Regions from separate parts of the Homo sapiens genome. Here all the other regions are linked to region 3. The links come from fine-mapping of genetic effects on gene expression. A gene starts in region 3. Each other region holds a variant in brackets. All regions are shown on one strand. Distances are between the middles of the regions. Region 1 overlaps MYO1G (myosin IG). Region 2 overlaps CCM2 (CCM2 scaffold protein). Region 3 holds the start of SNHG15 (small nucleolar RNA host gene 15).

The links. PIP is the estimated chance that this variant, and not a neighbour inherited with it, causes the effect.
Region 1: its variant is the best candidate, but not a certain one, in a credible set for the expression of SNHG15 in whole blood (TOPMed, PIP 0.84).
Region 2: its variant is the best candidate, but not a certain one, in a credible set for the expression of SNHG15 in whole blood (TOPMed, PIP 0.52).

Annotation. Positions count from the first base shown.
Region 1 is chr7:44,964,141-44,966,816 of GRCh38, forward strand. MYO1G (myosin IG) reads right to left here. Exons shown (of 22, transcript NM_033054.3): 15 at 2,532-2,676; 16 at 1,933-2,140; 17 at 1,497-1,720; 18 at 805-949; 19 at 275-379; 20 at 1-22. Among named protein-coding and RNA genes, the nearest start is that of MYO1G, 14 kb to the right of the region's middle. RefSeq lists an enhancer at 1,918-2,017. The variant G/C (reference allele first, on the strand shown) is at 1,474.
Region 2 is chr7:45,060,589-45,063,264 of GRCh38, forward strand. The region is part of intron 2 of CCM2 (CCM2 scaffold protein); the gene reads left to right. Among named protein-coding and RNA genes, the nearest start is that of NACAD, 27 kb to the right of the region's middle. The variant T/G (reference allele first, on the strand shown) is at 1,376.
Region 3 is chr7:44,985,551-44,988,226 of GRCh38, forward strand. SNHG15 (small nucleolar RNA host gene 15) reads right to left here and starts at 1,146. Exons shown (of 3, transcript NR_152597.1): 1 at 975-1,146. RefSeq lists enhancers at 245-991, 837-956, 992-1,739.

The DNA of each region.
Region 1 (2,676 bases), 21 kb before region 3:
GGATCTTGTGGAAGCGGTTCACCTGTGGGAGAGGTGGCTGGACCCAGGCTGGTGCTGCCCTGTCACCCACCAGGGCCCCAGGCTTCGGCAGTCCCTACTGCCTCCCCTCCCCGCTGGCGACAGTTTTGGGAGTGTCAGGAGCAGCTGGGCCTGGGCTGGGGTTGCCTCCATTTTCTCCCAAGTGCCCCCCCAAAACTCTGCACCAGCTTCTAACCTTGCAGACGTGGCTAGAAAAAGAGCACAGCCCTGAAGCCATCCTTGTCCCTTGTCTAACCTTGCGGACATGGCTTGAAAAGAGCACAGCCCCGAAGCCATCTTTGTCCTGAAGTGTCTTTAGTCGCTGAGCAAACAGGCTTGATGCTGTGGGATTGTCAGTGGCCTGAGGACAGATGGAGGGGAGGGGGCGCTGCTTGGGATTGAGTCATGGGACCAGACTCAATTGATAGCAGCTGTCTGTGAATCAGCATAGCTATCCTTCATCTCGGGAAACTGAGTCACACAGACTTGTGCGTGAGCTGAGCAGCCCTGGATTTCCTGAGGGCACAGAGCCCTCTTGTGTTGACTTCTAGGCTGCATCTGAGCCTGGCCCTCCTGTCATCCACACCCACCCCCGAAGGCCACTGCTCCTGAAGCCCAGGATGAGACCTTGCAGAGCTCTGGTGGGGGCTGAGGTACAGGGCCACCAGGACAGACAACCCCAGGCCTGGGAGAGGACATCTGAGGGGACCTGGTCACAGCATTAGCCGAGAGCCCTCTTTGGCAGCCCACTTCCCCCTGGCAGCCCTGGACTCGCCTGGCACTTACAGAGGACAGGTAGTCTCGGGCCCAGGCCCGTCGGCAGCCCCAGTCCTGACGAAGCCCTTGCAGGGCCCCCATGGCGGCCACCTTGGCCTTGATCTGGGGCATGTCTGAAGGGGGGATGTTCTTCACCAGCTGCCGGGCCCGCCACCTGGGAGAGGGCATGTAGTCAGACAGATGCTGGCCATGTGTTCATGTGCTCCCTGAGCCCCCTCTCCACAGAGGAAGCTGAGCCCTCAGCCTGGTGCTGCCTGCCTTTCATGTCCCAACCTCTGCCGGCCTCTCTGGCCTTGGCCCCTTGTGCCTAACGCTTGTTCCTGGAAGGTGACCCAGGGACCAGCAGTCGCCCAGTGTCCTCCTGTTCTGAGCATGCTCTGTGCCCCTCCTTCTGGAGAACTCCTACTCAGCCCTCAAGACCCCGCTCAGATGCAGAATCCCCTTACTTCCCAGCCCTAATGGGCCTCCCCCTGCAGGCTGCAGCCCTGGACCTTGAATGCCCACCACAGTACCCAAGATGGTCAGGGCTCTGCACCAACTGTGGGACATGAGCAGTCAGCTAATGTGGCATAGCATCCACCTTCCCACCTATCAAGGGGGCTGGTGTATCTCCCATCCAGGCACTGCAGGCCCGGGATGATGGGTTAAGGTATTCAGTGGATGCCAGCTGAATGGAAT[G/C]TGTGGTGGGCTGAGAGTAGTACCTGCAGAAGAGTGCGTGGCAGGTGTCCTGGAAGGGCTGCAGCACAGCAGGGGGCAGCGGCCACACAAGGTCACGCCCGTAGAGTGGCGGCTGCCTTGCAGCCTGGAATCGCCGCTGCAGCTCAGCCAGGTGAGCCCGCACCTTGTGTCTCCGGAACCAGCGCATGATGGTGTAGATAGCCCTCAGCCTCCGGCAGCGCCACCTCGCCAAGGTGCCCCGCCATGCCTGGGTGGGCCAGGTGGGATGGGATACGCAGTCAAATTCAATCAGGCCCTAACCCTTAGACCCAAACCTGGCCCTGAGCATTTATTGAGCACTCCCTGGCCTGTCTCCATCAAGCAGAGACTCCTGTGAAACTTACAAGTGTGTTTGTGGCCCCTGGGACACAAGCTTTCCCCACCTCCATAGTGGATGTCTTCCTGCCCCGCCCACCTCACCTTCTGCAATAGCAGCACAATGATGGGGATGAGGCGGGCTCGGCTCTGCTCCAGTGTGACCAGTGTCCGGGGTGAGCGGATGAACAGCTTGCTGTGGCCAAAGGCCACGTCCCCCTGCAGCCCGTGCTGCTCCAGGAGAGCGCTCACGGCTGCCTTGTCGGAGCCCAGCAGGTGGTTGGGCCATGTGTATTCACAGGTCATCTTGTACCTGTCACCACAGGACAGGGCAGTGTGGCCCAGGCCTGGGGGAGAGATGATGGAGCCCACCCTGCCCACCCCACACCTGGGGAGATGGCAGGGATACAGAGTGTGTTCCTGGAGCACTTATGACACCTGTGCACATATGTCTTCCCATACACATGTCCTCACATACATGTCCTCACACAGCCCTCATACCCATGTTCCCACCTGTATGTCCCCACATGCATGTGCTCACACACATGTCTTCCCAGATATTTTGGTGTCTTGAGGCCAGCAGCGTGCTGGTTCCTGCTTGTATCGATGTTTGCGACGTGCTGTTTGGGGACCCTCTGCTCCTACCCCTTGGACTCCACACAGGGACTATGGCCCATGGAGTGATGGGTGTCAGGTGCCAGTACCTGAGCAGGAATCGAGAGTAGGGCTGGCGGGAAGCGAAGCCAGCCCTGCGGACCCTCACATTCTCCAGCAGCCCCAGGTATGCGACCTGGTGGCGACAGTGGTTCTCATCCAGCTTCCCAGCTACCTTGTCCTCATTGGGCTTGA
Region 2 (2,676 bases), 75 kb after region 3:
AACTGTCCCACAGTTCTTGCATATTCTGTTTTCTTTCTTTCGTTCTTTTTTCCCTTTGCTTTTCATGTTTGGAAGTTTCTGTTGACGTATTCTTAAGCTCAGAGAGTCTCTCCTTGGCTGTGTCCAGCCTCTTGAGCTTGTTGAAGGCAGTCCCCATTGCTGTTACAGGACTTTTGCTTTCTGGCATTTCCTACTGATTGTTGCTTAGGGTTTCCATCTCTGCTTATGCTGCCTATCTGTTCTTACATGATGTCTACTTTTTCCGTTAGAGCCATTACCATATTAATCGTAGTTGTTTTAAATTCCCAATCTGGTAGTTCCAAAATCTCCACTATGTCTGAGTCTGGTTCTGATATGAGGAACTTAGGCGTCAGGTTAATAGGCCTTAGTGTGAGGTACGTTTGGCTGGCTGGGAGTTGGGCTGTGTTTACTGTTTGCTGCCCTTGTGATGCTGGGGGATAAAAATCTCCTGTGTATCCTTGTTTTTGTCTTCCATTGTTTTTGGGTTTTCTTCAAGATTCCTTCTTAAATAGAGTCTGAGGCCTGCAGTTCTTATAGGTGTGCATCCCTGTTATTACACAGGGGTCCTGTTGATGTGGCTTTCAGGGGAGAGGAAGTGTTCTGTAGTCCTGGGATTAGGTCTCAGTGTTTTAGTGAACCTGTGTCCCTGGGCCGTGGCCTTCACATGTGCTTCTCAGTTTTGTTTTTTTCCTCCCCCTTAGGAGAGACATAAACGATAGAGGAGGCAGGAATTGGGTGTTTCCTTACCCCTAGGTGGTTAGGCTCTGGTAAAATAGTTTTCCTTGAGGAAAGCCCTTTGTTAAGGATAACAGAATGCTCTGGTCATGCCTTTTTCTTTCTTTCTTTCTTTTTTTTTTTTTTTTTTTGAGATGACCTCTGAGCCCTTTATATGTTGGTTGGGAAACTGGAGTGCAGTGGCACCATCATGACTCACTGCAGCCTCAACCTCCTGGGCTCAAATGATCCTCCCATCTCAGCCTCCTGAGTAGCTGGCACCACAGGCACACTGCCGTGCCCAACTATTTTGTTGTTGTTGTTGCTGTTGTTGTTCTTGTTGTAGAGATAGGGTCTCACCATGTTTCCCAGGCTGGTCTCAAACTCCTGGCCTCAAGCAAACCTGCCGCCTTGGCCATCCAAAGTCCTGGGATTATGGGCATGAGCCACCACACCTGGCCTGGTTATACTTTTAAATGATGTATTCTTCCCTCCTCCTACCAGAGTATGAGGAGATGTTTCTCCAGTCTCACCCTGAGAGCCTGGTGGGGCTCATGGAGGTAAAACTCAGACTGGTATGGGGACCTCCCCAGTGACTATTCCCCTGGAGTTTTTGTCTCCTACTGGTCCATGCTCAGTC[T/G]CTGCCATTTGTCAGTTCCCCTTTCCTCTCTGCTGGTGCTGGCTCTAGGGTTTCTGCCCCGCAATGAGCTGTGATTCTTAGCATTGCATATCTGTCTCTCCATCTTTGGGGTTATTGTTTTTTCATGTGACCTCAATTATCTGATGGATCTGAGAACAGTCATTGATTTTAAGTTTGCCAGCTTTCTTGTTGTGAGGATGGGAGTGATGACTTCTGAGCCTTTACAAGCTGGACAGGAAATTGGAAAGTCCCATTTCATTCTTTTTTAATAGAGAACTTAACTGTGTGAGGTAATGAACAACTGAGAAATGTTGAGTGCAAGAAGCCTGTTCTTGGGAAGAATCAGCAACCCATTTTAAAAAACAGAAACATTGAAAATGTTATGGTGGTTGGTAAGATGCAGGCAGGAGCACAGCAGGTACAGTGCTGCTGCCCACAGCCTTCTACACCTGAGGCCCTGCATTATGGAGGTTTGCTAAGCCAAGTGCCTCATGGCCATGTGTGACCAAAAAAACCTTTTTACTAAATGTTTTGTGCTGCTATAACAGATACCACAGACTGGGAAATTTATAATGAATAGATATTTCTAGGCTGTGCATGGTGCCTCACACCTGTAATCCCAGCACTTTGGGAAGCTGCGGTGAGCAGATTGCTTAAGTCCAAGAGTTCGAGACCAGCCTGGGCTACATGGCAAAACCCTGTCTCTACAAAAATTAGCCAGGCGTGGTGACACACACCTGTAGTACCAGCTACTCAGGAGGCTAAGGTGGGACAATTGCTTTGAGCCTGGGAGGCAGAGGTTGCAGTGAGCCAAGATCACGCCTCTGCACCCCAGCCTGTGTGATAGAGTGAGACCCTGTCTCAAAAAAAAAAAAAAAATCGTATCGTTCTGGAGGCTAGGAGGTTTAAGGTTGAAGGGCACAGCTGGTGAGGGGCTGCATCTGCATCTTATGTTATCCCAGGGCGAAAGGTGGAAGGGCAGGAGAGGGAAGGGGGTCAAATTCATCCTTTCATCAGGAACCTGCTCCTGAGATAACAAACCCTCTCCCAGGATAACAGCATTAATGTGCTCACAAGGGCAGAGCTCTCGTGGCCTAATCAGCTCTTTTCTTTCTTTTTTTTTTTTGAGATGGAGTTTTGCTCTTGTTGCCCAGGCTGGAGTATAATGGCGCAGTCTTGGCTCACCACAACCTCCGCCTCCCGGGTTCAAGCAATTATCCTGCCTCAGCCTCCTGAGTAGCTGAGATTACAGGCATGCACCACCACGTCCAGCTAATTTTGTATTTTTAGTAGAGACGGGG
Region 3 (2,676 bases):
AGTCCACTCTCACTAAGCACCAGTCCCTGCTGGGGGCTGTGGGAAGAGACCAGAGTTCAATTAGGCACCTGAGCTTGGTTCCAGGAGCCCAGAGCTACTAATGACTCTCAGGGAAAGATCCTTTCTGGCTGAGGAAGAAGGGAAGGTGTCTTGGAAGAGATAACCTTATTAAATTATTAAATAGATCAGACAACACGAACTAAACTTCCACATTATTCTATGACACTACAATTCTAGCATGGCTTTTCACTGTGACCAGAAACATCCTTATCATCATGTAGTTAATATAAATACTGCCTTTTCCCCTTCATTTTTTTCTCATGTATCTTACGGCTCAGAAATCACTTCTGAAGGAGTAAGTAGACCAGGCACATGAAGTAGATTTCATTTTCCCCATGAAATAATGGTTCAGAGAAAACGCAGGCCTAGTTCCAGGAAGGCAGAGTTGGGGTCTCTGCAACGTGATTTACCGGGGCATCTTGCAAAGGAGTTGCTGTGACAGTAAGCTCTTCCACTTTGAGACCGTCACCTCAGCCACGGCTCCCACCTAGAAGGGAACAAATGCAGTTAGCTCCAAACGCAGTTAGCTTCAGCTTGTGCCTCTGAACCATTATCCAGCTCTAGCTCCTTGCAACGCCTGGCCCACTCTACAGCCTCTCTTGCGGCAGGTCTACACGCCACCCCATGCCTTCCGGTGAGGTCCCTCCTGACCACACGTCCCATCCCACCTACTGGGGTCCACCCAGGTCATGCAGAAGCCCCACTTCTCGGCTGAAAGAGAAGCACGAGGTTACTCATCAAGTAATCCCCGAGTCTCCTCCGGGTAAAATGTTCCGAACGCGCTCAACCGCCTCTTGAGAGGAAGTAGCACGTGTAGTGAAGGCTTGGTCTCCAAGAATCACTGGTGCCCCCACTCACTGCGGCCCAGCCTCCCACGCCGCCCGCCACTGAACCCAATCCCCCAGGACCCCTACCTGGGCTCAGGAATGGTCAGGCAACACGTGGGGCCCAGGATGGCGGTGGATGACTAGACTGCCGAAGACCGCGCCGCTGCGACTACGAAGTACGGAGTACGGAGTACAGGTCTGCCAGCCAAGACTGACGCCGCGCGCTGCGCCGCGCACCTCGACGTCACCGCGTAGTCCCGCCCCGAAGCCGTGCGTGGCCGGGGCCACAGCGTTTGGGGTAGATGACGTCACGCGGCCGCGGGCGCTCGCTTGGTAGGGTGTGCTGGGGCGTAGAGTTTAGGGTCCTGAGGCTGCGTCTGCGTGTCAACTCAGTGGAGTCTCTCGACCGCCCTTTGTTACCCTCCTTTAGTGACCAGAAGGCTGGAGTTACGTAATCTGCCCCTACAGCTAAAAGGACGGAGGCCTGACGGCGTGGCCTGGAGGGACGCGCTGAGCCCCTAATGGGTGGTGCCTTCCTGGTGCGGCCGCACAGGCGGGGCCGGGCGGAATCCAAGCACGATGTGGACACGGAGCCTTGGGAATGAACAGGAGCCTGCCTGTGGGAGCATGTGGGAAAGGTGATGCAGGTGGAAGGGCAAATACAAATTATACATAGGGTTTAATTTTCCCTGAGGAAAAGAAGGGACGAGAAACCATCCCCCTCCCTTTTTCTTTCAAAATTTCAGCCTCTCTCCTTTCCAAATGTACTCAAGTCTTTTTCTTATATGGCCAGGTTCAACTCAGGAATGTTTCTTGGGAGCCATCTCCTTGAAGTGTAATTGTTGGCTGGGTGCGGTGGCTCACGCCTGCAATCCCAGCACTTTGGGAGGCTGAGGCGGGCGGATCACAAGATCAAGAGATCGAGACCATCCTGGCCAACATGGTGAAACTCTGTCCCTACTAAAAATACAAAAATTAGCTGGGCATGGTGAAGCGTGCCTGTAGTACCAGCTACTCGGGAGGCTGAGGCAGGAGAATCGCTTGAACCCGGGAGGCGGAGGTTGCAGTGAGCCGACATAGCACCACTGCACTCCAGCCTGGAGACAGAGCGAGACTCTGTCTCAAAAACAAAGAAAGAAAAAAATGCAATTGTTAAGGGACGAAAGGGCCAAGAGTCCAGCTTCTTAGGAGGACAAAGGCTTAACTTGGCACCTGACTCCAAATTGCAAAACCTACATAATGTGATGGGCTATCTCTACTTAGCTGCATAGAAAAAGTGAGTTTCTGTCTTTGTGTTGCCTTTAGCAGGTTGCATGTGATGTACGGCATCACAATCTGGTTTAATACTTATTCAGTAATGGTTTTCTGTCTCTTCTACCTTTGTGGAGAGGTTTCATGGGTTGGGAGGAAACTACTCTCCACCCCCCACCCACCCCCAGGCAGAGGAAAGCACATTGAAAGGTCCTGAAATTGGGAAGGACATGGTTTGCTGGTGATACAGCTAAGTATTACAAGTTTGTAGTGTTCTGGAAGGGTCTCAATGAGGAGCGGGAGATAAGGACGATGTGTTCAAGGGTCTTGAATGATCAGGCTAGAAAAGTGAGAACGTGGTTCTATAAGTAAAAGCAGAGCAGTGCTTGAAACTCGTATTTTATGTATTGCACCTAGTAAATACATTCAATCACTTTACAGTATACAAATCCCATACTTCACTAAGTGTCAAAACCCTAACAGACAGATAAGGCAGAACTGTTACTTCCAGATTACTAACGTGGAAACTAAGCCCCAC